Regions from separate parts of the Homo sapiens genome. Here all the other regions are linked to region 3. Evidence: fine-mapped QTL for protein levels in blood plasma. Region 3 holds a variant in brackets. A gene starts in each other region. All regions are shown on their forward strands. Region 1 holds the start of SLC27A4 (solute carrier family 27 member 4). Region 2 holds the start of GLYR1 (glyoxylate reductase 1 homolog). Region 3 overlaps HABP2 (hyaluronan binding protein 2). Region 4 holds the start of HMOX1 (heme oxygenase 1). Region 5 holds the start of PKD2 (polycystin 2, transient receptor potential cation channel). Region 6 holds the start of LBR (lamin B receptor). Region 7 holds the start of PTPN1 (protein tyrosine phosphatase non-receptor type 1).

What was found. PIP is the chance, under the fine-mapping model, that this variant and not a neighbour inherited with it causes the effect. Protein levels are from antibody-based Olink assays in UK Biobank. Linkage for the fine-mapping came from a reference panel and not from the study's own genotypes, which makes the PIPs less certain.
Region 1: it holds the start of SLC27A4, and the variant in region 3 is fine-mapped to the plasma level of the SLC27A4 protein (UK Biobank, PIP above 0.99).
Region 2: GLYR1 starts here. The variant in region 3 is fine-mapped to the plasma level of the GLYR1 protein (UK Biobank, PIP above 0.99).
Region 4: it holds the start of HMOX1, and the variant in region 3 is fine-mapped to the plasma level of the HMOX1 protein (UK Biobank, PIP above 0.99).
Region 5: PKD2 starts here. The variant in region 3 is fine-mapped to the plasma level of the PKD2 protein (UK Biobank, PIP above 0.99).
Region 6: LBR starts here. The variant in region 3 is fine-mapped to the plasma level of the LBR protein (UK Biobank, PIP above 0.99).
Region 7: it holds the start of PTPN1, and the variant in region 3 is fine-mapped to the plasma level of the PTPN1 protein (UK Biobank, PIP above 0.99).

Annotation. Positions count from the first base shown.
Region 1 is chr9:128,338,500-128,342,499 of GRCh38, forward strand. It overlaps SLC27A4 (solute carrier family 27 member 4), which reads left to right and starts at 2,028. Exons shown (of 13, transcript NM_005094.4): 1 at 2,028-2,339. It overlaps TRR-TCT3-1 (tRNA-Arg (anticodon TCT) 3-1), which reads right to left and starts at 1,667; the gene lies at 1,577-1,667. It also overlaps the pseudogene TMSB4XP4. RefSeq lists silencers at 1,405-2,046, 1,675-2,084, 2,155-2,554 and an enhancer at 3,191-3,370.
Region 2 is chr16:4,845,574-4,849,647 of GRCh38, forward strand. GLYR1 (glyoxylate reductase 1 homolog) reads right to left here and starts at 1,715. Exons shown (of 16, transcript NM_032569.4): 1 at 1,655-1,715; 2 at 601-637. The coding sequence starts at 1,692. UBN1 (ubinuclein 1) reads left to right here and starts at 1,908. Exons shown (of 18, transcript NM_001079514.3): 1 at 1,908-2,637. RefSeq lists enhancers at 1,159-1,218, 1,519-1,578, 1,874-2,716 and silencers at 1,769-2,488, 2,499-2,588.
Region 3 is chr10:113,586,248-113,590,321 of GRCh38, forward strand. HABP2 (hyaluronan binding protein 2) reads left to right here. Exons shown (of 13, transcript NM_004132.5): 13 at 1,958-3,355. The coding sequence ends at 2,122. It overlaps NRAP (nebulin related anchoring protein), which reads right to left. Exons shown (of 42, transcript NM_198060.4): 41 at 3,419-3,550; 42 at 2,467-2,832. The coding sequence ends at 2,728. Among named protein-coding and RNA genes, the nearest start is that of HABP2, 35 kb to the left of the region's middle. The variant G/A (reference allele first, on the strand shown) is at 2,040.
Region 4 is chr22:35,378,688-35,382,761 of GRCh38, forward strand. HMOX1 (heme oxygenase 1) reads left to right here and starts at 2,409. Exons shown (of 5, transcript NM_002133.3): 1 at 2,409-2,509. The coding sequence starts at 2,487. RefSeq lists silencers at 2,130-2,209, 2,510-2,679.
Region 5 is chr4:88,005,332-88,009,397 of GRCh38, forward strand. PKD2 (polycystin 2, transient receptor potential cation channel) reads left to right here and starts at 2,304. Exons shown (of 15, transcript NM_000297.4): 1 at 2,304-2,997. The coding sequence starts at 2,403. RefSeq lists silencers at 2,067-2,996, 3,047-3,186.
Region 6 is chr1:225,426,324-225,430,397 of GRCh38, forward strand. LBR (lamin B receptor) reads right to left here and starts at 1,715. Exons shown (of 14, transcript NM_002296.4): 1 at 1,631-1,715. RefSeq lists enhancers at 125-797, 798-1,469 and a silencer at 1,302-2,131.
Region 7 is chr20:50,508,512-50,512,585 of GRCh38, forward strand. PTPN1 (protein tyrosine phosphatase non-receptor type 1) reads left to right here and starts at 1,872. Exons shown (of 10, transcript NM_002827.4): 1 at 1,872-2,079. The coding sequence starts at 2,017. RefSeq lists enhancers at 1,046-1,633, 1,846-1,945 and a silencer at 1,506-1,735.

The DNA of each region.
Region 1 (4,000 bases), not on the chromosome of region 3:
GCTGAGGCAGGAGAATGGCGTGAACCTGGGAGGCGGAGCTTGCAGTGAGCCGAGATCGCGCCACTGCACTCCAGCCTGGGCGACAGAGCAAGACTCCGTCTCGGAAAAAAAAAAAAAATACTCCCCACAAATCTCCACGCTGACCCTGTGAGGTATTATTAATTAGTATGTCCCATTTTTTATATGTAAGAACAAAATGAATCTTGACCTTTCAGCTGAGAAGGCGAACTCAATGCTCATGCCCATACCACTGCACATTCTGCCTCCTGATGGTGATACCCATGAAGGATGTGGTGCTGGAATTTACTCAAGTCCCCAAAAGGAGGCACCCTATATTCCAGAAGAAATAGGTCCAAATCCTTATCAGACCAAAATTTCATCTTTATTTTTATTATTATTAGTTTTCTGAGACAGGCTCTCACTGCTCTGTTGCTCAGGCTGGAGTGCAGTGGCCCAATCTCGGCTCACTGCAACCTTTGCCTCCCGGGTTCAGTGATTCTCTTGCCTCAGCTCCTGAGTAGCTAGGATTACAGACGTGCACCACCACGCTCGGCTAAGTTTTGTATTTTTAATAGAGACAGGGTTTCGCCCTGTTGGCCAGACTGGTCTCGAACTCCTGACGTCATGTGATCTGCCCACCTCAACCTCCCAAAGTGCTGGGATTACAGGCATGAGCCACTGTGCCCAGCTTATTTTTATTTTTTGAGACACGGTCTTACTTTGTTGCCCAGGGTGGAGTTTAGTGGTGCAATCACAGCTCACTGCAGCCCCAAGTTCCAGAGCTCAAGCAATCCTCCCACCTCATCTTCCTGAGTAGCTGGGAGTACAAGCAAGAGCTACCTGGCTAATTTTTTTTTTTTTCCTGTAGAGGCAGAGTCTCACTATGTTGCCCAGGCTGGTCTTGAACTCCTGGCTGAAGTGATCCTCCTGCCTCAGCCTCCAAAAGTGCTGGGATTACAAGCTTGAGCCACCACGCCAGTCCCAGAATCTTTTTTTTTTTTTTTTTTTTTTTTTTTTTTGAGATGGAGACTTGCTCTGTCGCCCAGGCTGGAGTGCAGTGGCGCAACCTCGGCTTACTGCGACTTCCGCCTCCCAGGTTCAAGCAATTCTCCTGCCTCAGCCTCCCAGGGATCTATTAATGTTTAAGGACAAGTGGCAACTGTGGATGCCCAACATGGTTACTTAACAAGAAACCAATTTTTCAGAGGCCAAGAGTCCCAACAGGGCCGAGAATCTGGCCACTCGCCTATGGCTCTGGAGGTGGCATGACAAATAAGGGTGGCATGACAAATATAGGTTAACTGATTTGTTGCAGGGACCAGAGATCATAGATGGTGAAGTTAACTAAGGGCCTCCAAATCCGTGTCCTTTGTGCCAACAGGTGTGCCAGGCTGCTCACAAGACACCATGGTACGAGAAAGGATTTCTCGTAGTCACCTAGACACCAGGTTTATGGCTGTGTCGCAGCAAAGTTGGGTGTGACTTATGATTTTCGTTCTGAACCTTATTTGTTAGATAGGTCCTGGAGTCCTTAAAACACGCAGGTGAAAGTCAGGGAGTAGGAGCCATCAAAATTCGACTCTGGTGGGACTCGAACCCACAACCTTTGAATGACCACACTAGGCTCAGCTAGAAGTCCAATGCGCTATCCATTGCGCCACAGAGCCGGCTGCGGAACCCGGCCGCCCCGCTCACCTCTGCCTGAAACCGCCCTCTTAGCGAGCTTCTAGGTGTGGTGCTGGGTGTTTGCTGAACTCGGCCGGGGCCCGAGAGCGTGCTCCGGGTTTTCGGCTGTGGTGTGGACTGGGGTGCTCTTCCTACATCCGGGCGCTGGGGACAGCAGGGGGCAAGGGCCGGGGTCGGCAGGGAGGAAGGGCCGGGGTGAAGCCCGCCTGTCTCCTCGCGGACTCGGGGGTCTCCTCGGCTGGGTGGGGCCGCGCGGCGTGGACTACAACTCCCAGCGTGCCGCGCGGCGGCGCCGCCCGAAGCCGTTGCGCGAGCAGGGCGGGCTGGGGCCGAGCGGCGTCAGGCGCGCTGGGGCTGCGCTGCGCCGCCGGCTCTGTGGCTTGCCGGCTTCGGGGAAGGTGCGGCAGGCGGTGCTGCGGCCTGGCACAGCAGGTTTGGGGTGCGGGAGGCGGGCGGGGTAGGAGCGCGGCGGGCGGGGCCGGGCGGCGGGCGGGGCTGGCGGGGCGGCCGGGCCATGCAGGGCGCAGAGCCGGCTAAACCCTGCTGAGACCCGGCTCCGTGCGTCCAGGGGCGGCTAATGCCCCTCACGCTGTCTACGCTGCTGCAACCGGGCCGCATCTGGACGGGGCGCCGCGCGGCGGAGCCGACGCCGGGTGAGCATAGACCGGGCTGGTGGGTTCCCGGGTGGGGACATGTGCCAGGCCGAGTCGGGCGAGGTGGCGGTGCGGACCCCAGGTGGGGGGCGCGCCCTGCGGCGCTATTTCCCCGACAGACGCACTGTTACCTTGCTGTCTAGGGGCGAGGGCGGCACGCGTGACCCGGGACAGGGGCCCGAGGGAACTAGTCACCCTCTTCTGGCCTCTTCTTGCCCCAGCCTTCCAGGACAGGTTCCTGCCCCTCTGCTATGGCGGGCTATGGGAGGCCAGAGATCTGAGGACCCTGGACCCTGGCGTTGGGGTTGAGGACTCTGGTTCAGTTCCCCCGCCCCCGGCTTTTGCTTTTCGCGAGGGGGAGGGGGAGATGGTCTCCCAGGGCTTCTTGTGGTCCAGACCATTCCCTTTTCCTGGCTTGGAGGCTCTCAGGCCATTTCACATTTGTGACCTTCATCTACTCCCAAGAACAGGAAAACTCGGAGAAAAACAGTCCCATCAGATGTCCCCTTGATCGAGTCCTCAAAGCTCCAGGAATAGAACCCAAGAGTCCTAGCTCAACCCAGCCCCTGAAGCACAGTCAAGTCATTCGCCTTCCCCTAAGCCCTAGACCCCAAAGATTCATCCGAGTGGCTGTGTGTGTCTGTGTGATGGGTGGTGGTGTCTTCAAGGTCCTCCTCGCCTCCCTCAATCAGCTTTGCCCCCTGGGCGGTCACCTTTCAAGCACTTCCAGGCTCTAACTCGTTTTCTGGGTCGCCCTCTATAGACCAACAGACGCACTGCGATACCTGAGTCTATGGGCAGGGACCAAGCAGGGCTCCTTTTCCAGGGAGCTGCCCCTTTGACTTGGCCTGGTCATCCACAGAACCTCCCTGGGTTCTGGGTGGGGAGTCGAGCCAGAGACTTTTTTTTTCTTTTTTTGAGACGGAGTCTCGCTCTGTCTCCCAGGCTGGAGTGCAGTGGCACAATCTCGGCTCAATGGAACCTCCGCCTCCCGGGTTCAAGCAATTCTTCTGCCTCAGCCTCCTGAGTAGCTGGGGTTACAGGTGTGTGCCACCATGCCTGGCTAATTTTTGTATTTTTAGTAGAGACAGGGTTTCACCATCTTGGTCAGGGTGGTCTCGAACTCCTGACGTCATGATCCGCCTGCCTCGGCCTCCCAAAGTGCTGGGATTACAGGTGTGAGCCACCACTGCCAGCGAGCCAGAGGCTCTTAAGTCAGTACCCACCCCCAGGCCATCCGGTTTTAGGGACCCTGGATGTCAGAAGAGTGAACTGTCATGTTTTGGCTAGAAAAGCCTCTTAGAACACGTCTCAGGACAACTCGGTGGTGGCCACTGCGCAGACCAGACTTCGCTCGTTCTCGCATGCCTCGCTCCGCTTTTCCTCCGCAACCATGTCTGACAAACCCGATATGGCTGAGATTGAGAAATTCGATAAGTCGAAACTGAAGAAGACAGAGATGCAAGAGAAAAATCCACTGCCTTCCAAAGAAACGATTGAACAGGAGAAGCAAGCAAGCGAATCGTAATGAGGCGTGCACCGCCAATATGCATTGTACATTCCACAAGTATTGCCTTCTTATTTTACTTCTTTTAGCTGTTTAACTTTGTAAGATGCAAAGAGGTTGGATCAAGTTTAAATGACTATGCTGCCCCTTTCAC
Region 2 (4,074 bases), not on the chromosome of region 3:
AAGGGTTGACACAGGACATAGTGAAAACAAAGGACAACCGAGGCACAGAAAACACCATATTGCAAAGAGACCATCTAAAGACACCTCCCGGGCTCCAAGCAAGAATATAAAAACACAACATTTGGAAAGCAATGATGGATCACCTCATGCAAAATCTGGAATGCCAACTTCTGCAAAGAGGCACTGGAGTAGCACATATGGTAACATGGAAAGAAGATTTAAACTTAGTTGGGACAAAAATACTTTGGCTTTTCACTAACCTACATTTAGACTTTCTTCCTGGATAATTTATATTTTCTTCTCCTTTTGTTACATTTAAGCATAAAGCTAAATTCAGACTAGAATTATTTCCGGGGTTAAAAAAGAAACTTCATAAACCTCCTCTAAATCCAGAAATAAGGGTTTAGAGAAGATTTAATGATCTGGTGTATACTGCATTGCCTTTTAAAAAATAACCGATACTAGGGGAAAAAAAATTCTAAGTGCCATCTGAATGAGCCCAATTTAACTCAATACTAGAAACTGAGAGGAATGCATCTTACATTCTCCACCTCTTCAAACCCAACTTCAGATCTCTTCCTTTAGTAGCAAGACACTCACCTTTCCTGGCCAAGGAGGATATCGGCCGAGTTTCCCCCTAGAGAAAACACAAAGAGTCAACACTTGCCCTGCAAAAGCCAGTCCATCTCCTTCAACCCACTCAATACGCAATTTATTTTCCTAAATCTCTGCTGGCATCCTCAAATGCCGAAACAAAAGCTTTCATAGCTGGGCCCAACACCCTCAGAAGTAAAATGCAAAATTGTATACTTATGTGCACAACGCATATCCATTCTTCTGTTGACAAGGAATACAGAACAACACAACTGTCAAAAGTCACTTGTCTAGAGCTTCTTAATGACGGGGGTGGGAGGACAGCTTCCTCTGTAAACACAGACTTTCCCTCCCTAAGTCTGGTTTAATTCAACAGGAGACCTGCCTGGCTTTGACAAATGCTAATGGAAGCCTTCCTCTGGGTGGAGAAACAAGCTACGCAGCTCGAGGGAGGCGGCGACAAAGTCTTGGTTCGGGCGGTTGTCTGGGACACAGAAGCAGACCGCGGGAGGCACCCAAGCGTGCACTGGTCACTGCCAAGCCATCGGTTGTAAAGGAGAAGTCCCCCCGCCGTTTCTTCGCGGGGCAACGCCAGCAGTCCGGTTTAGACAACCCCGGCTGAGCCGGCCGCACAGGTCGGCTGCATCGCAACCTGGGCTTTGACCGAATGGCACCGGCCAGATCTCGCAGGTCCGGTCCCCGGCGCTTCTGCTTTCTGGGAAGCCCCAACAAGACCCCGGGGACCGGTCGTCCGGGGAAGCCTCGCGGCACCGGCGGCTCCCTTCACGGGGGCCGCCAGTATCTGGGCCCCGAGTGCAGACCCCACCCGGCCGGCCTCGGGGATCAAAGCCGGTGCCCGACGTGGCCACCCTCGGCCTCGGTCCCCCGGGACTGGACTGCCCCTTCCGCCTGGCGCCGCTCGCAAGCGCCGGCACCTTCTCTTCCCCTCTCTCCGCGACCTGGAGCGCATAAAAAGGCAGCTCCAGGGCCGGCAGCGAACCCCGCGCCCAGGCGGGTAGCTCCCCGGCGCGTCTCGGTTGGCCCGGCCGCTCGGACTCACCACACCAAGTCGCCGAGCCGCAGACTCACAGCCGCCATCTTACCACCCAACCACCGCCGACGCACGGGCCGCCGGGAACAGCAAGTCGCCCCGGCGCCGCCCATTGGAGTGGGCCCGACCACGTGACGGGGGCCGGCTGTCACTGGCCACGCCGCTACTCTGACGTCACCGCGCCCGCCGGGGATCATTGGTCGACCGAGGGGCACGTGACGCGAGCGCCGCGGTCTCCGCGCGCCGGAGCGCAGAGACTCCCGGCTCCTTCCCCCTCCCTTCGGCTCGTGACAACGAAGCGCCCGCGGTCTGAGGCGGCGGCGGCGGCGACGGTGCGACCGGCTGAGCGCGAGAGGGAGCCGGCCTCGCGGCTCGCCCCGCCCCCGGGTCTTGGACTCCGCGCCCCTCCCCTCTCGGCGCTTCCGTTACGCCCGTTGGTCCGGCGCGGGCCCCGGGGCCATTCCCGAGCCCGAGGCGCTGGTCGGCCCCGTCGCAGCGCCAGTGAGCTACCCTGACGGAGCTCGGCGCGGCCTGGAACTCAGCCTCCGCCGGGTCTGGGCTCCCGCGCCCGGCAACTCTGCTTGGCCGCAGGCCGGGAGGCCCCGGTGTCCGCGCCCGTCCGCTCCCGCCGCCCGTGTTCTTTGGAGCGCTCCTCCCGACGGCCGCTTTCGGAGGCGCCGTCTGAGCGCGGGGTCCCGCGCCGCAAGTTCTCCTGGGGCGACCGGAGGCTGCTCCCCCGACCCCCTGGTGTCCCCGGAGTGGCTGCGCGGACGTCGAGTTGGCATTTCTTCGCTTCCTCCTGGGCCGGCGCGCGGCGCGGCACACCAGGCTCCCCTGGGCTCGGGGACCCGGCCATGGGCCGAGGCGCGGGCCGCCCGCCCGCTGGGAGCCACGGCTTAGCAGCCGACCGCTAGCTGCGCCGCCGCCCGGGGACCGGCATGAGGACCGCCGCGGGGGGACGTCTGCGGCCCGCGTCGGCGCTGGGGACAAAGGTGCGTGTCGTTGTCGGGTCCGGGCTCTCTCGTTAGCCTTGCCCTAGTTTTGCACTTTTGAAAAAGTTGTGACAACAGGAAGACAGATGCCGGGCGTAGTTTGGACACTTTAAAACTGAACCATGAACTGGGAAGTGTTAACTGCAGTTGAGCGCAGCGTCGGCCCAAACTTCAGCAGACCAGGTAGAATCACAATTTTGCAAAAGATCCCAGTCCCGATCACAGACTCCACAGTGTTAAGGATTGACTTAGACTTGGTGTCGGGCTCTTGTTGAGTCACTGCCAGCTGGCAAAGGTGGCGAGTCGACACGCATTTCCCCAAGGCATTGTGGTGGTTAGAGATTTCGGTTGCAAGTCGGTGTTTAGCGTACTGGGTCGTCCCGCAGCCTGATTTTTCTTGGGAGATCAGTTTCCCTGAAGTACCAAGAATTAGCTGCACGGACTGTCATTTACTGCGTGTGTATTTTTAAGACAAAGTGATCTTTAAAGCGTATTTAAGATTCCAGGGAATAATTTGATAAAAATTTAACATAAGTTCCTGTTTAAAAATTCTGAATTTGTGAGGAATTGAATGAGATTTTAATAACTTAAATAAAAACATGAATCTTGGCCGGGCAGGGTGGTATAAGCCTGTAATCCCAGCATTTTGGGATGCCGAGGCGGGTGGACCACCTGAGATCAGGAGTTCGAGACCAGCCTGGCCAACACGGTCAAACCCAGTACTCTACTAAAAATACAAAATTAGCCGGGCGTGGTGGCGCATGCCTGTAGTCCCAGCTACTTGGGAGGCTGAGGCAGGAGAATCGCTTAACCCGGGAAGCGGAGGTTGCCGTGAGCCGAGATTATGTCACTGCACTCCAGCTAGGCGACAGAGCGAGCGAGACTCGTCCCCCCGCCAAAAAGAAAAAAGAAAAAAAAATCTCAAATGAACATTGCACCAAAACCTAGAGGCATTCCCCTTAACATCAGAAACATGGTACATTTCTACCACTATTAGATAATAAGAATATATTGCCTAAAACCTGAAAGTTCTAGCCAGTGCAGTAAGACAGGAAACAAAAATAAGAAATGCAATTTTTGGAAAAGGGAAGACAGAATTCTCATTTCCGTGGATGATAGGTCTGCCTATTTTGAAAACAAAAACAAAAACCAAAAAACCCATTAAAATAAGAATTCAGGAAGGGTACTCATTATAAGTTGGAATGCACAATTTAGTTTTTCTGTTTCATCAATAACCAGTTTGAAAATACAATGTTTAGAAGGAGATATATATATATATAGTAAGAAAAAATTAAAAATTGCTGAGGATAACCAAGGGACAAGGAAGGCTAGTATTTTCTCAGTAACACCAACTGAGGTTTTTAAAGGGGGATCTTTGTTTTTTTCTTTTTTTTGTTTGAGACGGAGTTTCACTCTTGTCGCCCAGGCTGGAGTGCA
Region 3 (4,074 bases):
ATAGCAATTGGGTGGCCAGTGGCAGGGCTGGGATTTGAACAATACAGTCTGCAGGACACCAAAGGGGCTTGTGGCCTCAGTGTAGGGCAGCCTTTCTGAGAATCCCAGTAAACAGGGAACTGTCCAGAAGACCAGTGGCTAGAAGGAGAAAGAAGAAGGCCTAGAGCTAGAGATTTCACAGTAATATTAACTCATGATTAGGACTCATGTGTGCGTGTGTGTGTGTGTGGGGGGGGGGGGGGTGTTTTAGCCCTAGAAAACTAAGTATATCTGTAGCCTAGGGCCTTTCAGAACTCCAAGTTGCTGAGGCTTGTGACTCAGAGACACTGTTGCAGAGAGAGAAGGTGGTGGCTCCATCAACCAATGCTAAAGTGACTTCAGGCCCTGCCCCAAGTCAAAGCCCATTCCCCATAGTCCCTTTATCTGTAGGGATCACATCACACAGGGTCCTTTCTAGAATCCCAGGAACACCTCCATTTAGAATTTTCTGACTGTTGTCCCCATAAGCCTTCTAAATGTCCTGGAAAACAGCATGCCAACATTCAAATCCCAACTCCTTCAGGGAGCCTCCCCGTACAAAGGAACCCACAATGATTTGCTGGCCTTGAACTCACTTTGGGATGGGACATCAAGGTTCCTCTCTCCAGGGTTTGTGGCTCTCCTGTGACTATCTGTCTCTTCCCAGTGAGCCAAGGATGTTCACCTACTCAGAGGAGGGGCAGATGGGTGCAATTTGCCCTAAACTCCTTCCCAGAAGATGGTTAAGAAAACAGCTCATTCAGGCTGGGCATGCGTGGTGGCTCAAGCCTGTAATCCCAGCACTTTGGGAGGCTGAGGCGGGCAGATCACCTGAGGTCAGGAGTTCAAGATCAGCCTAGCCAACATGGTGAAACCCTGTCTCTACTAAAAGAAAAATACAAAAATTAGGTGGACATGGTGGCACATGCCTGTAGTCCCAGCTACTGGGGCTGAGGCAGGAGAATCGCTTGGACGTGGGAAACGGAGGTTGCAGTGAGCCAAGAGGGTGCCACTGCACTCCAGCCTGGGCAACAAAGCGAGACCCTGTCTCAAAAAAACAAAAACAAACAAACAAAAAAAAACCTCATTCAATTCCCTAGATAATTGAAGGCTTTCACTTGCAGGCTTTGGAAACAAATAGTTGTGAATTGAAACCTGTTTCTGTCTCTTACTGTATGGCTTTTATCAGTGATGAAAGCAATTCTTCAATCTCAGATGCCTAAACTATAAAATGGAAATCTATCTATAAGATCACAAGGTCGTGGCTAAGTTTAAAATAGAGAATTCATTTTTTAAAAACCTGTCAGTTGTAGTGTTTAAGCAGTATTAAGTTTTTGAGAGCTATCACCCTCAATGTCTTCTTCTCCTCACCATCATCATCCTCGCCACCTTCCGTGAGGGTTTAATATGAACCAGGCACTGTTCTATATACTTTACAAACAATCTTCACAAGAACCCTGGGGGATGGGGATCTATTGCTATCTATGGTTTACAGTGTGAGAAACTGAGGCCTAAGGTCACATGCCTGGCAGGTGGTAGGGCCTGGCTTAAAACCCAGGAGATCTAACCCCATAGACCATGCTGAGCACCTAGGCCACGCTGCCTTGGAGTCCCCAACCTCCTCCCCTATGTGTGCTGAGGGCCCCCGAGAACTCACAGTCATAACATCTGCATCACTGAGAGTTGGGAAGTGCAGCTGTGCGGCTCCTCTGTTAAGCCCGCGTGGACTCAGGGACGGAGGACACTGTTATCTTCTCTCCCTTAGAGTCTTGTATCATGTGAGATGTGGGGAGAGCCTTGTCACTGCTTTCCAGAGAAGCCCACGGAGGCTGGCAAGGGACTCCACCCCATCCCTCCCTGACACCCCCTGGAGAGAGGTGGGGGCATCTCCAGATGTCTCTGGTTCACGAGGATGAGCTTATGCCTCTGTTTCCCTTAGGGTGACTCTGGAGGCCCCCTGACCTGTGAGAAGGACGGCACCTACTACGTCTATGGGATAGTGAGCTGGGGCCTGGAGTGTG[G/A]GAAGAGGCCAGGGGTCTACACCCAAGTTACCAAATTCCTGAATTGGATCAAAGCCACCATCAAAAGTGAAAGTGGCTTCTAAGGTACTGTCTTCTGGACCTCAGAGCCCACTCTCCTTGGCACCCTGACACCGGGAGGCCTCATGGCCAACAATGGACACCTCCAGAGCCTCCAGGGGACCACACAGTAGACTATCCCTACTCTAAGCAGAGACAACTGCCACCCAGCCTGGGCCTTCCCAGACCAGCATTTGCACAATATCACCAGGCTTCTTCTGCCTCCCTTGGTAACCCAAGGAATGATGGAATCAACACAACATAGTATGTTTGCTTTCCTTACCCAATTGTACCTTCTAGAAAATCAGTGTTCACAGAGACTGCCTCCACCACAGGCATCCTGCAAATGCAGACTCCAGAATCCCCAGCATCAGCGGGAACCACCATCACATCTTTATTCCTCAGCCCAGACACTCGAGGCACTCAACAGAATCAGCCATCCACGTCTAGGTATCAGAGAGGACCACAAATACAACATTCTCCATCTGCTTTCAGAGTTATTATTTTAATAAAGGAAGATCTGGGATGGGCTGGTGGGCCATTCCAGCTTGCCGAAATCAAAGCCATCTGAAGCCTGTCTCTGGTGAACAAACTTCCTCTCTGGCCTCTCAGGAATCAGGGTGGACATGGCTCACAACAGCAGGGCCTTCTTCTTTTTGACGTGCAGAATCTCAGTGGCATCTGGGTTCACCTCCCCACTCTGATGATCTCCAGCCTCCACTGCTTCTGCCCCCCGCTGCTGAAATCAAACATACCCCAAGTTAAAATGAAGCTCCCCCACCCCCACTCCCGGCCCCGGTTCCCACAGGACACGCTAAGAAGCACAGGGAGCATTTAACAGGCTCACCCTCCCTTTCCTTTTCCCCTCTTCTACCCTCCCCAAGAAAAAGGGCCTTCAAGGCAGGAATGAGAAAGCAAAGCCAATCTCTCATTTAGACCTGGCTTCTTTCTTCTGAACAAAGTAGGGTTCAAAATGCAGACTGTCATATCCAGCGAGTCCCTGACCCTTTCTGCGAATGTAACGAGCAAGCAGTCAGCACAGCCTGGGCTGCCCTGGCCCGGGATTGATGTAGCCCCGGTAGGTTTGCCTCTGCAGAACTAATGGCTGTGACTTCAGAGAAAGCCCTGCAGGAAGTTTAACCTGCGTGTCATCTGCCTGGTCATCTCAGACCCATGAAATTAGGCGCCTTGTTTGAGCTGCGTTTCACACTTCTTTAGAGCTAGCTGACCTTTGGCCAAAAATAAACTTTGAAAAGAAACAATGAGTTTGTCTTTCCCCATGGCCTTGCAAGCCAGGGGTGGCTTTGCAGCTTGCTACTCACGTAAGCTCCCTGGAGACCCAGGCCCCTTGCGTTGGCCAGTTCCGCAGCCCGCCGAGCCATTTCCACTTTGTAGGAGCCAGGAGGGGTCCAGCCAACACCTCTGGTCAGGTTCAAGTCTGATTTATACTTGACCTTGAGGGTAAGAGGGAAGCAAGAGGAATATGTCAGCAGGGTTTGGAGCGGTTTGACCATTAAGTAAAGAAGATTAAAAAGGCAGCCACAGTATGAGACTATGTTGTCTGTCATCAGTAAAGCCAGAACAAGGGGAACAAATTTATCATAAGCAGCATCTCCCTGGCACAGGGGCCGCAATGTGCTGTGAGTCCAGCCGGCATGTTGCTGTCTCTTGCATCTTCCCATTCAAGTGACAAAAGTTACAGTTGGGAGTGGGTGGGGTAGTGACACCTGCTCCACACACTCTGTGGCCTTAGGGAAGCCACTTCCCTTCTCTGGGCTTCAGTTTCTTCCCAGAGAAAGTGCAAAGGCTGGGTTAATAGCTAAGATCCCTTGGAAACAGTTTAGCATAGCCATCGAGAGCTTGGGCCCTCACAGCAAACCAAAAGGGGTTGGTATCCCAGGTCTGCCACTTATTTGTTATGGGATCTTGAGTAAGTCACTGAACCTCTCTGAGCCTCAAGTTCCTCATCTGTAAAATG
Region 4 (4,074 bases), not on the chromosome of region 3:
CTGTGACCTACCAGGCACTATTCCAGGAACTGGGAATTTACAAAGCAAAGTAGTAGGCAAGGTCTCCACCTTTGTGCTTTACATGCCACTGTTGGGGCTCAGAAAGTGATACCAGGACAACTGGTGCTTTGACATGATGAGAGGCCTTAGGAGCTGCCTCAGAGTCAAGGTCCCTGTAAGCTTGTCTTGTTCCCCCGACAAGCACAGGGAGAGACGCTCTCTGGAATTTCCTTATCTGACCAAGAACACTTCTTTACAAAAGAAATGCAATTGTGTTAAGTCTTTTTTTCCTTTGAGACAGAGTCTCGCTCTTGTCACCCAGGCTGGAGTGCAGTGGCACTATCTTGGCTCACTGCAACCTCCTCCTCCTCCCGGGTTCAAGCGATTCTCCTGCCTCAGCCTCCCAAAGTGCTGGGATTACAGGTGTGAGCCACCGCGCCCGGCCAGTGTTAAGCCCTTTTTCTAGTAATCTCATCAAATATCCAGGAAAGATCAACCACTGGAGAGAGAAAGAGACTGGGAGTCATCACCAGACCCAGACAGATTTACCTGTTCTTCTGAGGACAGTGCCAAGAGATTACCTGGGGGACTTTATCTGCCTAGGACAACCTTTGTCCCTGTGCGGCTCCACCTCCACCTTCCCTTAAAGTCGGCCTTTCACCTCCAGGGCCATTCCTTCTTGCTAATGATTTACTGTCTTTCAAAAGAATTGTCTGCATTCCCTATCTCCCTTCTCCCCTATAAAAAAGGCTGGGTAGCCTCTGTACTCCACTGGGTTACAGGGTCACCATTCTTCCGTGATTACCCCATTACAATACATTTTTGTATGTCTTTTCTCCTCTTAACCTGACTTTTGTCGGTTGGTTTTCGGGGAACCTTCAGAGGAAGAAGGGGAATTTTTTTCAAGGCCCCTTAGCTCACCCTTGGGAGGATGATCCTTTCCAATACAATCTCAGAAGTGCCTCTGGGCTGTAGTGGCCCTAGGCTGAATTCCAGGAAGTTTTTTTTTTTTTTTTTTGTTTTTTTTTTTTTTTGAGGGACAGCGTCTTGTTCTGTTGCCCAGGTTAGAATACAGTAGCGTGGTCACAGCTCACTCCAGCCTCTACATCCCAGGCTCAAGTGAACCTCCAGCCTCAGCCTCCCAAGTAGCTGGGACCACAGGCATGTGCCACCATGCCCAGCTAATTTATTTTATATTTTGTAGAGACAGGGTCTCCCTATGTTGCCCAGGCCAGTCTCGAACTCAAAGCAATCTTCCCACCTCGACTGGGCTCAAAGCGCTCTTCCCACCTCAACCTCCCAAAGTACTGGGACTACAGGTGTGAGCTACCATGCCAGGCCTGAAAGCCATCTTAAAAAAAAAATCTTAGAATGAGAATCACAGTATTGGGAAAGGACTGTATGAATCATCTGGTCCATTCGTTTTGTCCTCTGGGTTCACCCAGTGACCCTATTTCCCCCGAGTTCTAAGGAGTCCACCTCATGCAGAATTGATTCAATAGGCGATCAGCAAGGGCCAGCTCTGCTCTGGGCCCTGAGCAGGCACTGAGTATAAGTCAGACCTGAATGTGCCTGGAAGAGTGTCCCACGCATTCCAGCAGGGAAGCAGTTTGTATGACAGGTGTCCCAGTCCAGGCGGATACCAGGTGCTGCCAGAGTGTGGAGGAGGCAGGCGGGGACTTAGTCTCCTCCCTGGGTTTGGACACTGGCATCCTGCTTTATGTGTGACACCACTGCACCCCTCTGAGCCTCGGTTTCCCCATCTGTAAAATAGAAGCGATCTACCCTCACAGGTCAGTTGTAGGGATGAACCATGAAAATACTAGAGTCTCTGTTTTTTGACAGGAACTCAAAAAACAGATCCTAAATGTACATTTAAAGAGGGTGTGAGGAGGCAAGCAGTCAGCAGAGGATTCCAGCAGGTGACATTTTAGGGAGCTGGAGACAGCAGAGCCTGGGGTTGCTAAGTTCCTGATGTTGCCCACCAGGCTATTGCTCTGAGCAGCGCTGCCTCCCAGCTTTCTGGAACCTTCTGGGACGCCTGGGGTGCATCAAGTCCCAAGGGGACAGGGAGCAGAAGGGGGGGCTCTGGAAGGAGCAAAATCACACCCAGAGCCTGCAGCTTCTCAGATTTCCTTAAAGGTTTTGTGTGTGTGTGTGTGTGTGTGTGTGTGTGTATGTGTGTGTGTGTGTGTGTGTGTGTGTGTTTTCTCTAAAAGTCCTATGGCCAGACTTTGTTTCCCAAGGGTCATATGACTGCTCCTCTCCACCCCACACTGGCCCGGGGCGGGCTGGGCGCGGGCCCCTGCGGGTGTTGCAACGCCCGGCCAGAAAGTGGGCATCAGCTGTTCCGCCTGGCCCACGTGACCCGCCGAGCATAAATGTGACCGGCCGCGGCTCCGGCAGTCAACGCCTGCCTCCTCTCGAGCGTCCTCAGCGCAGCCGCCGCCCGCGGAGCCAGCACGAACGAGCCCAGCACCGGCCGGATGGAGCGTCCGCAACCCGACAGGCAAGCGCGGGGCGCGGGACGCGGGACGGGCGCCTTTCTCTCCCAACCCTGCTTGCGTCCTAGCCCCACCCCGGGACACTGCCACACAGCGACAGAGCCCAGGAGCCAGAAACTTGGGCTCTGGAGTCAGGAGGTGCGGGGTTCTGATCCTGCCTGTGCCCGTAGGGTAGTTGGAGGGAGGAACGGTAATTTACATGCCTGGCACCCTGGTATGCGGTTGGTGACCAAGATGGGAGTGTCCCTAGAGTATCCAGTCTTTGAGGTAGCCAATTTTTTTTTTAATCCTACTTTCGAGGTGTGTTTGGAGTTGCTCTCTGCTGAATCTAGATCTCTGGGGCTCTGCCAGCCTGGGGGAGCATGCTTGGTTCTCTTGGTGGCATCTGTCCCTCACTAGCTACGGAGGACCTGAGCCAGACATCACCCTGGCTGCGGTGTTCCATGTCTCACAGATAGCCCAGTTCAGGGAGGCGACATGCCCAAGAGTGCTCAGTTAGCTGGTGTCAGAACTGGGCCTTGAACCTTGGTCTGCCCACCTCCAGGTCTCACTCATTCCCTTCTTTCAATAATTTGTTAGTATTTTTTTTTTTAACTCCTGGGCTTAAGCATCCTCCCACCTCAGCCTCCAGAGTAGCTGGGACTTACAGACATGTGCCATTTCTCCTGAGACTTTGACCAGCTGTGTTGTAGAACAGGGAAGCAGGGCAGGAGAAAAGGGAAAAATGACAATTCTGTGGGGAGGCAGGGATACGGACCCATGACAGAAATACTCCCAGAAAGACTTTTTCTTTGACTAAAGCAGACTTTCTCAGGCTTTTTAACCCTGACGCCTTCATGATGAGCATAACATGATAGGGGGTCATGAGATTTGCATCTGGAACTTTAACAAAATAACTGAATTAAATATTGGGTCTAAAAGCCAATCAAAGCAATTACAAACTTGGAGATGCCGGTTCATGGGGCTGCTGCTTCTTCCTGGGTTATGCTGTACCTCCTCCTCCTCTCCACTGCGAACTACCTGTACCAGGATTTCCCCCTTGGTTTGGGGGACTGTATTATTTAGTGTTTTAATGACTGAAGAGTGTTTACAAAGCTGCGAGAGCCACCATGCCCAGCCTGAATTTGTTTTTTGTTTTTTGTTTTTTTGTTTTTTTGCTTTTTTGCTTTTCTTTTTTTGAGATGGAGTGTTGCTCTGTTGCCCAGGCTGGAGTGCAGTGGCGCGATCTCGGCTCACTGCAACCTCTGCCTCCTGGGTTCAAGCGATTCTCCTGCCTCAGCCTCCCAAGTAGTTGGGATTACAGGCGCCCACTACCATGCCCGGCTATTTTTTTTTTTTTTTTTGTATTTTTAGTAGAGATAGGGTTTCACCATGTTGGCCAGGCTGGGCTCAAACTCCTGGCCTCAGGTGATCTGCCCGCCTCAGCCTCCCAAAGTGCTAGGATTACAGGCGTGAGCCACCATGCCTGGCCCTTTTTTTCTTTTTTTTTCTTTTTTTGAGATGGAGTCTCTCTGTCACCAAGTCTGGAGTGCAGTGGTGTGATCTCAGCTCACTGCAACCTCTGCCTCCG
Region 5 (4,066 bases), not on the chromosome of region 3:
TTGGCTCAGATTCTGCATTCTCTTTCCAGGCCTGGCTCTCCTCTGTTGGAATGTGTCTGTAAGAATCCTTCGACTCTGCAGTGCTGCTGGTGCTATTCAGGACATCTTCAGCTTCAGAAGTTCCTTGGATGACAGGCACCATAACCCTTAACCCACTTGGTAATCTCTCATTTTTGGTCTGTCTCCTCTTGAGGGCCAAGGCTGTATCATACTCCTCTCTACATGCCCAGACCTTAATTCAGGGCACAGGAAATGTCTTCAGAATGAACTGATGAATAGCATGAGCTAGGGCTGTGCTCCAGACCCACCAGTCTTGCCTTTGAGAAGCTCACAGTTAAGAGAAGAACATGAATATCTAAATTAATAAACTGCAGGATCAGGTAATAGGTAGCCATAATTACCTAAATATTAGCAGCATGTTATATGTGCCTAGAGAACAAATGAATAATTCATTAAGGTGGATGGATGGCATGGGATGCCATGCTAGAGGAGTACATTAAGAGCTGTTAAAGCTAAATTGTGTCCCCCCAAAAATTTCTGTGTTGAAGTCCTAACCCCCATTACCTCAGAACATGACCATACTTGGAGACAGGGTCTTTACAGAAGTAATGAAGTGAAAACAAGGTCATGAGGGTAGGCCCTAATCCAATATGATGTATAAGAATAGACAATTAGGACACAGACGCATACAGAGGGAAGAGGGAAGACGGCGTGAGGACACAAAAGCGGGGCCATCTGCAAGCCAAGGAGAGAGGCCTCAGAAGAAACCAACTCTGCCAACACCTCGTGAGAAAATACAATTTTTCTTTTCTTTTTCCTTCCTTCCTTCTTTTTTTCTTTCTTCTCTCTCTCTCTTTCTTTCTTTATGAGACAGAGTCTCACTCTGTCACTTGGAGTGCAGTGGCCCGATCTTGGCTCACTACATCCTCTGCCTCCCGGGCTCAAGCGATCCTCCCACCTCAGCGTCCCTAATAGCTGGGACCAAAGGCACACACCGCAAAGCCTGGCTAATTTTTGTATTTTTTGTAGAGACAAGGTGAGCAAATAAATTTCTGTTAAGCCACCCAGTCTCTGGTACTTTGTTATGGCAGCCCTAACAAACAAATACAGGAGCAGATTATGAGAATTTACTAAACCAAACCACAGAAATTAAATTTTATCCTTTCAGCTGCCAGAAGCCCACAGAGGTGTCTAAGCATCAACGTGACAAATAAGCAGCTTTGGTTCTGCAATATAACCTGGAAATAGTGAGGACACCGACGTGGAGAATAGAGATGGGAGTTGACAGGGATCAATTGTTCTAATGCGGAATAATGCAAGACATAAGATCAAGCCAGCAGGAGTGAGAAACAGAGATCATATCAGGGTGATATCTGTGGGGCAAAAGTAACAAGAAGATAAGGTGTAGGCGGTGGAGGGTAAACCGCGAGGCTTCCATGAAGAAGAGTGGCCTGGGAAGTGAGGAGGACAGCGAAGCCCCAAACCTCACCTTGGGATACGGGAAGTGAAGCAGGTTCCAGAGAAGGGGACAAGATAATGACTTAGGGTAGGATAAATTTCAGACAATTGCAGAGCATCACATTAGATGTGTTCAGAAGAGTGGAAATAAAGTTCTGTGCCTAGGCCCTCATGCAGGATTCTGTTGCTAGAAGTCAGTGCTGGCCGCAGGGAGACCGGAGATCACAGTGGAGGCACCAGCGATCCGAGAGTCCTATGACGAATCCCTGGGATCCCCACAATGTGTGGAGACAGAAGCCAACCAAAGAGCGAGAAAGCATCTCCAAACCAGCAGAATCAGGGGCAGGAGGCCCGCCAAATGCACAGCAAGTCAGCCTTGGTAGTTTGCAAATGGAAAGATTTCTTTGACCCGCTGGAGACTTCAGCTCAGGCTGGATGTCGCTAATTCACACCATCTCACCAAAAGGTTCTTTCCCTGCCCTTTGGTGAATCGAGGCAGAAGTGGCTGGTGGATAACTGGGACCCAAGAGTTATCTCAGCGTCGGGCAGGCATCGACAGCTCCAGGAGCCCTTTCCCTGCAGGCGGGCTGGCGGGTGAGCGATTCCCTCCCTTCCCAGGCCTTCCCGGGAATGGAACGTGGGCGCCCGCGCCCGGGCTCCGGTTCCACTTGGAACGCGGACTCGGGAGCCGCCGGGCGAGCGCGCAGACCGCGGGGGCGGCTCCCTCGCACCTCCCCGCTCAGCGCGCCGCGGCGGATGGGCGAGGCGGGGCGAGGCCAGAGGGAGGCGGGCCAAAGGGGCGGGCGAGAGGACGCGGGACCGCGGGGAGGTCGGGGGCGGGGAGCAGGCGGCGGCGGGCGCCGGGAAGAAAGGAACATGGCTCCTGAGGCGCACAGCGCCGAGCGCGGCGCCGCGCACCCGCGCGCCGGACGCCAGTGACCGCGATGGTGAACTCCAGTCGCGTGCAGCCTCAGCAGCCCGGGGACGCCAAGCGGCCGCCCGCGCCCCGCGCGCCGGACCCGGGCCGGCTGATGGCTGGCTGCGCGGCCGTGGGCGCCAGCCTCGCCGCCCCGGGCGGCCTCTGCGAGCAGCGGGGCCTGGAGATCGAGATGCAGCGCATCCGGCAGGCGGCCGCGCGGGACCCCCCGGCCGGAGCCGCGGCCTCCCCTTCTCCTCCGCTCTCGTCGTGCTCCCGGCAGGCGTGGAGCCGCGATAACCCCGGCTTCGAGGCCGAGGAGGAGGAGGAGGAGGTGGAAGGGGAAGAAGGCGGAATGGTGGTGGAGATGGACGTAGAGTGGCGCCCGGGCAGCCGGAGGTCGGCCGCCTCCTCGGCCGTGAGCTCCGTGGGCGCGCGGAGCCGGGGGCTTGGGGGCTACCACGGCGCGGGCCACCCGAGCGGGAGGCGGCGCCGGCGAGAGGACCAGGGCCCGCCGTGCCCCAGCCCAGTCGGCGGCGGGGACCCGCTGCATCGCCACCTCCCCCTGGAAGGGCAGCCGCCCCGAGTGGCCTGGGCGGAGAGGCTGGTTCGCGGGCTGCGAGGTAAGAGCGCGCGACCCGCAGCGGCAGATGCACGAACCAGAACGGCCGGCGCCGGCCGGGGCCATCGCCCGCTGCGGCAGCTCCCCGGGCTCCATCTCGCATCCCCTCTGCGTTCCGCCTCCCTTGGAAGCGCATTCCCCACCTCCGCTAGTGCTGCCCTATTTCCGGTACCCAGCGCGGAATTCCACTGCTCTTTTGTTGGTGCATATTTATTGGATACCTCCTTCTTCAGGATATGTCACCATAGTCTTTTTTACTGAAAATTAGTGAAAGCCTAATTAGAGTGAAAGAGTACATCTGGGTTTTGTTTTTTTTTTTCTTGTAGAGGAAAAAATGAACATTACTTGTGTAACTGATGGTAGTTGCAACTGCATATTTGCCAATGTCACAAAATCTAAAGGAAAATGTTATAGTCACCCGTGGTTTCCTTCTTGCCTGGACACTCCATTGTCCCGGGCTGAAAAGGGTAGCAGTACAGTGCATATAATGTCAAGTTGTGGGAGGAGTGTGGCAGATTGTCATTGGTGCATTTTTTTGGTGATGTGTGTGGTTGTTTTGAGGAGTGGGAGCTGTTAAGAACACCACAAATAGAATAAAATAATATCGTGAAGTTATTTGGCCGTTTCTAATTCTAGACATTTTTCTAAAAACAGTTGCAAAGGAAAGATTACATTGTTTTAAAAAAATTTGAAGTATGTTTTTAAATAACTAAATTAATGTTCTTTGAAATTCCACCAAAATGATGAAGTCACCAGATAGCAGCTGATAAATGTGTCTGAGCCCAGTGCGCCCAGCTCTACAAAAGGCAGAAGAGGAATTTTCAAATTTGCCAGTGCCCAGTAAGAGGACATGAATTTTCTAGTACCAGAGGAAATTCTCTTTTTACAAATTTTGTCAGAGGTATCCTTGGGAAAGTATTTCATTTGCTTTTACCCTCCAAATTATTTTAATCTATATTTTTAAGAGTTTCCATTCTCAGTTGAGTTTTTCTTGTTCTTCTCCTTCTGTCAGTTTTGAAAGTCTTGCACAAAAACAATCCAGGTGTTGTTACAGCAGTGTGATTAAAACC
Region 6 (4,074 bases), not on the chromosome of region 3:
TGTTCGTGTCACTCACTATGCACTCACCTACAGGAGTCAAGATACACACAGGATTTTCTTACAAGAGATGTTTTAGGCAAGTGTGTTTGTAAAGAAAAATTTTGTTCACTGCACCCAATGTCCTCATTCGCCATAAACAGGAAAAACACGGAGACCCTCAGGTTTTTCTCTATTAAGCCAGATGCCCGCTAACTTCAGAGTCAACTGGCACTGCAATCCTCACACATTCCAGCTCCGGTATGTTACTGTTTGTGAACACAACAATTCTCTGCTCATTAACATTACAGGGGTCTCCAGCCATCTTTCCTTCACTTCTCCAAATTCATCTAAACGTGGCATAGAGCAAGACGCTCGAATGACGTTGGACAGCTTCCTTTTCACACCTGAGCCCCGGTAGCCCCACTAGGCAAAATGCAAACAGGAACCCCGGGCCTTGCTCCGCGCCCTTTGCTTCATGAAGCAACAGAAAGGCCACCTTCCTGGCTGTAAAGGCAGAAGCGCCTTCTTCCCCATAAACATCCTTGGGCAGCTCATCATTCCCCTCCTGCTCGTTCTTCTCCCTCTTCCCAGGCAGCCTGAGAAACAAAACTTAAACTGGACTTGTTGCCTAATCTAAATTAGGATCCCTCTGCTCTTCTCCGTAGCTCCATCTTCTCCCACACACCAGTTACTACAATGCGTAACTACAGATCTACACGTGTTTACGTGCAAGGTCCCCGGGGGCCTGTTCACCCTGGCACTGCCCAGGCGCCGCGCCTCGCGCTGCAGGTGTCCACGCGCGGACCACGGTATCTACCGCGCCCTCGTGTGAACACCCGACCGGGCCCCGTAATCACTCTGGGAAAGCGCCTTCAACAAAGCCCTCCGAAAGCAAGTGCTTTACTAAGTGCCCCTTGAGGCTACTGGCAGTGCGAGGCTGGCTGTCATTAGAACATTTTTCTGAACCCTCAAAAAGGTGAAAAAGCAGGACCGTGCTTTAGCAGGAACACGCACACCCGCCTAAATACCCGATTTTTGAGACTGTCCGGGCGAAGGAATTCAACGCATAGGAGCGAGCAGCCATGCAGTGTGCCTGGAGAATCACCAAACCGCGACGACCACGACCCTCAAAGCCAGTGACAAGCAGCGCGAATCTAAGCCCACCTCGGCCGCAGACCCTTCCCCGTCCCGCCAGGCCGCCGCGCCCTGTCAGCCTCCTACTGCAGGACCGCGGGGCCGCCTGCTCATCTGTCAGACGGGCGCTCGGAGGGGCCGGGAGCCAGGCTGCGGTGGGGCAGGACAAAGGCGCCCACGAACCCTCCCTGCCGCCGCCGCTCCACAGCCGCGCCGCGCCGCCAACATGGAGGGAAACGTCCGCAGTTTAAAACCCCCAGCTCCATTTCCGCAGCGGGCCCGGCTCGGGCGAGCTCCAGCCTCGCCCGCCGCCGCCCCGACCACCCGACTGGGCCAGAAAAGGCGAGGAGGGGAGGAGACGAGGAGGCGAGGAGAGGAGGGGAAGGCCGCCGCGCCAGGCCCCGCGCCCAGGGTCCCCGGCCCGGCCGCTGCGCCGGCCTCGGGCTTCCTCCCCCAGCGGCCCCTCGAAGAACGCGCCGCGGGGAGCTGGGAGCAGGGCGGGGGTGGAAGCACTCACCTGCGCCAGGTTCCGGCGGTGACACGGACGGCTCCCGGAGAATAGTCGCACAGCAACCCGGCGGCAGATCCACGCGCGCGACGCTACCCGGCCGCGCTCTCGCGCCCCGCAGTCCCGCAAGCCGGGCGCGCGCCTCCCCGGCCCCGCCTCGCGGCGCTTCTCCCCTCCCCTCGCCTCCCCTCCCCACCGGCGAGGCCGCCCGGGGCTCCCATTGGCTCCTCGACCTTTTGAATCATCCCCGGCGCTGTCGATTGGTCGCGCGCCGTGGCGCGTCCGCCCCGCCCCACCCTGCCTGGGGGCGGGGAGGCCGGTGAGCGGGGGAAACCGAGTCTGGCGGGGCGGCCCGGAGCGCGACGTTTGCCACCGCCTTATCTCAGCCGCCCAGGCGCCCTCGCAGCACACGGAGCCCGCGCGCTCCCGCCCTTTCCCTCCCAGCGCTCGCAGCAGTGTTTGGGGTGCCAGGTGGCTTGGCGAACGAGATTTTTTTTTAAGCTACAAAGAAAACTAATACATTCTTGAAGTGATCACCAAAGATCCGAGCTCGAAAGCGTTTCTCGGTAAAACACTATGAGTGCCCTCCTTAGCGTGTTAAAATCCCACAGAAGCCCCTGGACCAAGCAGCGGCATCGAAGGCGAGCAGGGGCGCTTTTGTGTCCGCGGCCGCTGAACCTGCGTAGAAGCGAACCCGGACCGATGCTGGGACCGGCGGCGGGAGGGAGGGGGAAGAATGGCCGAGGGCTCCTACGACTTACGCTGCGAGGAGGGGCTCGGTTGTTACCCGAGATGCTGTCGAGATGCAGTAGAAAATCCCCAACACCGCGGAGCGTGGAACAAGAAGTTTTATGCGTTACACACCGAAACACAACTTGACCTGCAACCTACAAGCCTGGTTTTAATTGAACCCCAAAATGCTGAGTCATGTCATTGTTGACTCCGAATCTGTTACGGATCCTAAGCTTTTTTTTTTCTGCTAGTTTTCATTATCGGTTAGTTGATTTCCTTCCTTTGAGGTCGAGAGTTTAAAGCAGTCCATTGAAGTTCCCTATTTTGCAGTGTGGTTTTAATCAAAGTATTTCTTAACACCCTAACTAGGTATATTTAAGTGAATTGCTATTTTGGAAGCATTATTAAATTGTAATAATGAATAGAACTTTTCATCTATAGCCTAGCTTCAGCTTTCATTTTCTCATAGAACTACAAAACACCCAGGTTTACTTCTTAAAAAAAAAAAAGTGAAAATACATCGAGTTTTCTCAGTCATTCACATGCAGTGTGAATGAGTTCATCAGAGCCTTTCCTGAGAAGTTCTGACATCAAATTGTCATTGCCATCGAATTTGCCCTTGGTGGAGATCTGTGCAACAGAAATGCACATCGCACTCCAAAGTCAGAAAATCTTTTATTTTTGACAAACCCCCAAGTCTCAATTGTCTTAACCCTTGACATAAGATAATATTAGTCCTACCTCATAGAGTTTTGCAGTAAATTACACAGAAATAAAAGCGCTTATGGGGACCTAAGACAGATCCTATCCCAAATAGCCAAGCAGTGAGTGCTACACTATTCTTTTCTCATATGTTCTACCCAGAATCAAGATTTCACTGGATTTCCCTTGAGGTGCACATTTCCTGGATGATTTCCACTTGTGAAATAGAAGAAGATTCGTTTCAAAAAAAAAAAAAAAAACACCTGGCCAGGCGCCGTGGCTCACGCCTATAATCCCAGCACTTTGGGAAGCCGAGGCGGTTGGATCACCTGAGCAGGAGTTCGAGACCAACTTGGCCAACATGGTGAAACCCCATCTCTACTAAAAAAATACAAAAATTAGCTGGGCACGGTGGCGAGCACCTGTAGTCCCAGCTACTCGGGAGGCTGAAGCAGAAGAATCGCTTGAACCTGGGAGGTGAAGGTTGCAATGAGCTGAGATCATGCCACTGCCACTCAGCCTGGGCAAGAAGAGCGAAACTCTGTCTCAAAAAATAAATAAAATAAATTTTTAAAAATTTTAAGAACCTTATTTTAAAGATCAGGTTTATAAAGTCTCATCATAACAAAATGAAGCCAAAACTTTGTAAATTAACTAGAGTTAGCTTAGCTAACATTTTACCTAATAAATTACTAATGACATTTTTAAAACAAAACTGATTTGACATCAGGAAAACTAAGCAATAATTTTTGTTCATTTCTACTTCGTGGACTCAAACATACCATGAACAATCAGATCTATATGTAGGCTGCTTTCTCAACAAAGGAACTGTTTGGTATTTTTCTCTTCTTTTTTAAGTCTACTAAAGGCTGTGTAAACTTGGAAGTGGGGAATTTTCAGAAAGTTCTCAGAAAGATGCTTGTCACTCACAACTAGCAAGTTGTGGGTTTTCAGAATCTATAAAGTAAAAGTCACTTAAAAGTCCGCATCTTGGCACCATTGTTGTTAATGAGGCCATG
Region 7 (4,074 bases), not on the chromosome of region 3:
GGATCATAGGTACGAGAATCAGCTGGAGTTGTTGGTGAAAATGCAGATTCCGGGTCTCATCCCTAGACCAAAGATATCTGAATCATTTGGCGATGGGTCCAGGAACCTGCATTATTCAACACACTTCCCAGGTGACCGTAAATGTCAAAAGACAAAATTACAACAAACTTAAACATCTTAATTGGCTTCATTCATGATTCTAGAATCGGGCAAGACTTCATTCCTCAAAATAGCACAAGTGTCCCAATGAGCTGAGCAGAGGAGGTTGGTTTTATAGACAGAAAAGGGCTGAAAAAAGCAGAAACAAAGAACAAAAAGCAGATTGGTCATTTCAAAGTTACTTTCCTTGTAAGGCAGGAACAGGGAAACAGAACAAGAGAGAAATAACTGATTGGTCGCATCGGGTTACTTCAGGTTACTTTTTGTTGTAAGGATTAAAGCAAAGGGAACTTCATTATGTTGATTAAAACGGTCTGCTTGGGAAATCAGGGTGTGTATCTCTCTTCTGATTTTGTGAAAGGTTATCAGTCTGATGATGTAGAACTTTAGCATGAGTGACTCCATTTTGATTTTTAGTCTAGTCTGTTGAGACCCTAATGCCAGAACTTTTTTTGTTTGTTTGTTTCGCTCTTGTTGCCCAGGCTGGAGTGCAGTGGAGCTATCTTGGCTCACTGCAACCTCTGCCTCCAGGGTTCAAGCGATTCTCCTGCCTCAGCCTCCCAAGTAGCTGGGATTACAGGCATGCGCCACCACGCCCGGCTAATTTTTTTTTTTTTTTTTTTTTTTAGCAGAAACCGAGTTTCACCATGTTGGTCAGGCTGGTCTCGGACTCTTGACCTCAGGTGATCCACCTGCGTCGGTCTCCCAAAGTGCTGGGATTACAGGTGTGAGCCACCACACCCAGCCCTTTTTTTTCAAGACAGGGTCTCTCTCTGCCACCCAAGGTGGAGTGCAGTGGCGCCAAAACAGCTCACTGCAGCTTCCACCTCCTGGGCTCAGGTGATCTTCCTGCCTCAGCCTCCCCAGCAGCTGGGCCCCACCACACCGGCTAATTTTTTAACTTTTAGTAGTGACGAGGTCTGATTCTGTTACCCAGGCTGGTCTGGAACTCCTGGCCTCAAGACATCCGCCTGCCTCTGCCTCCCAAAGTGCTGGGATTACAGATGTAAGCCACCGCGCCTGGGCTCCTATGATTTTTATTTAACATAATGCACCATGGAATTTGTGCTCTGCTTAGTTCAGTCTGAGCAGGAGTTCCTTGATACTTCGGGAAACACTGAAAATCATTCCATCCCCATCCATTCATTCCTGCAGCACCCAAGTGGAAATTCTGCGTTTCAGACAGGGACACTACCCTTAGAGAGCAGTGGGCTTCCCCAGCAGCGTAGTGAAACATGATACTCCTGAGTTTCATGAAAAAAGGGCAGACATCTGGCCAGAGCTGGGAGGCAGGAAATAGAGCACGGTGCCCTCCTCCCATACTCCAGCTTGGATTACTGAGGCTGGGGCCCAGGCCCTGCAGGAAAGGAGGTGCATGACTACTTTAAGGCCACTCACTCTGTGACTCAACGGGCCGGGTCGGGGCTGGAACTCAATGCCCTCCCGGGCCTGGAGAGCCCACGCGCCGTGGGCGGGGCTCCCGGGGTCGCCTAGGCAACAGGCGCGCGCCGCGCCCGAGCCCAGAGCCCCAAAGCGGAGGAGGGAACGCGCGCTATTAGATATCTCGCGGTGCTGGGGCCACTTCCCCTAGCACCGCCCCCGGCTCCTCCCCGCGGAAGTGCTTGTCGAAATTCTCGATCGCTGATTGGTCCTTCTGCTTCAGGGGCGGAGCCCCTGGCAGGCGTGATGCGTAGTTCCGGCTGCCGGTTGACATGAAGAAGCAGCAGCGGCTAGGGCGGCGGTAGCTGCAGGGGTCGGGGATTGCAGCGGGCCTCGGGGCTAAGAGCGCGACGCGGCCTAGAGCGGCAGACGGCGCAGTGGGCCGAGAAGGAGGCGCAGCAGCCGCCCTGGCCCGTCATGGAGATGGAAAAGGAGTTCGAGCAGATCGACAAGTCCGGGAGCTGGGCGGCCATTTACCAGGTGCGGGAGCGCCCCGGAGCGTGGCGGGCCCTTCGCTTAGGCCGCTTGAACATCCCCTCAGACCTCCAGGCCCCAGACTCCCTCTGGGTCTTGCCCTCTGCCTCGCTCCTACTGCTTGAGGATTCGATGGGACAGCGACGCACTGCGTCCCCCCACCCTTTGTCCCCGGGGCGGGCGTGTTTCTCGCCGCAGCGTCGGAGCCCCCTTCGATCCCCCACCTCCCTTCTGTTCTCCAGCTCGGGTGATCTCTCAAGCCGGGGGACCGCCGGTCTGTGCTCTCAACGCGAATCCCTCGCACCCCGACCCCGCCCCCTGCCTGTCCACTCTTTGTCCCCTGGGGTGATTTAGCACCCCCACTATTTCCTTTTCTGGAGTGGACCACCTCAGACTCTCTTCCTTTGTCTCCCTGGGGGAAAAGGTTACTCCCCCCGTCCCTCCTTCACATTTCCTTTCCCCTAGTCTCAGTGTGCGTCGAGTCCCAGAGATGACAGTCCCCTTTCCCCTTTCTGTTCATTCATTTATTGGATAGGAGTTGGCAAGCTTATTCTGTGCTAGGCACCGCTTAGGCATTGGAGGTGGTGTTTGCTAATCAGGACAGGCAAGATCCTAGCCTTAGTGGGGCCTAGAGTCGAATAGGGCAATCAAACACAAAAGCAAATAATTTCAGATAGTGACAGGTGCTGTGAAGAGAACGACTTCCTAACGGGGTACAGGGTGACTGCATAGAAGGCCGGCTGTCTTAGAGAAGGGGATCAGGGAAGGCCTGTCAAAGGAGGAGACATTTGCTTTGTGAGCTGAACCAAGAGGAGCAGAAAGCCGTGAGAATATGGGGCTAAAGAACCTTCTAGCCAGGAGGCCTGCGGTACCCACTCCATTGGGGCCATGATATTATTCTTTCAGGCAGGGACTCAGGAAGGTTAACGTTTTAACCCTCTCTAAAATAGCATCTTTCCTCAATGAGCAGCTTAGTCTTTGGTCGTGGCAGAGATGACCTTGTCTTAGGAGTCATCTCCTTGTGTGTTAAAAAGTTAGGAAAGGAGGGTTTCTCATATATCTATAAAACAAGTAGTTAAAAACACAAAGAGCTCTTCCTTTCACAAGCAGCTGAATAAGATACATACTCCCAATTAAATGTCATTGCGGGGGTTGTTAAGATTAACTAAAACCACACTTGCACAGTATCTTAAATAAGCGATATACAGAATAGAGAGATTTTGTTACTTGTGTAAAGGGAGACAGCAGATGATTCTGTTTTCAGCTTATAGGCTCAAAAGGCAAATTGTGAGATCCATCAGCTGTAGTATTAAAATCTATTTTGAGCTCCGCTTAGAAAGGAAAAAAGGTTTAAGCAGTTCTTTGGTATGCTTGACTAACAAAAGCCTTTTTTTTTGGCAGCCTTGATTTTCATGTGGATTTACATCAAGCTTATTTGACAGGATTCTTTTTATTTGGACTGTAGTGTGTATATTAGTTTCTGCTAGACTAATATTTCTAACCACTGTAATCTATATACTAATAAGTATGATTGATCAGTATATAAAATTTGTATGCCATATCTGGTCTCTGAATTAGCTGAATGAATTCCATAAGGGACTTTGAGACTGTGTAGACAAATTTTCTGCATCAGTTTAATGCAGTAGAGTCTAAAATGTCTTTAAATGAAAATTGTTGGTCTGAAGTGTTGGAGTTGATTATGATACACCCCATCACAGTGGAAGCATTGTGGAGAGAAGTCTTTTCCACTGAAATTGACTGAGTTGACAACAAGAAATACGTATTGTAACTTAGTTCTTAGTTGAATTTTATTTCTTACAATTTTAAGCCAGAGTGGGTTGACCTGTCACCCAAGCATGGTTAAAATTGTATTCAGCATGCAACTAGCATGGAGTGTGTCAGTCTTCAATTCATTTCCTTCATTGTTCTTAAGTTTTTCTGCCACAATTAAACCCCACAAGTTAGTCAAGGTGTTGAGATTTTCACTGCTTCTTAATGGAT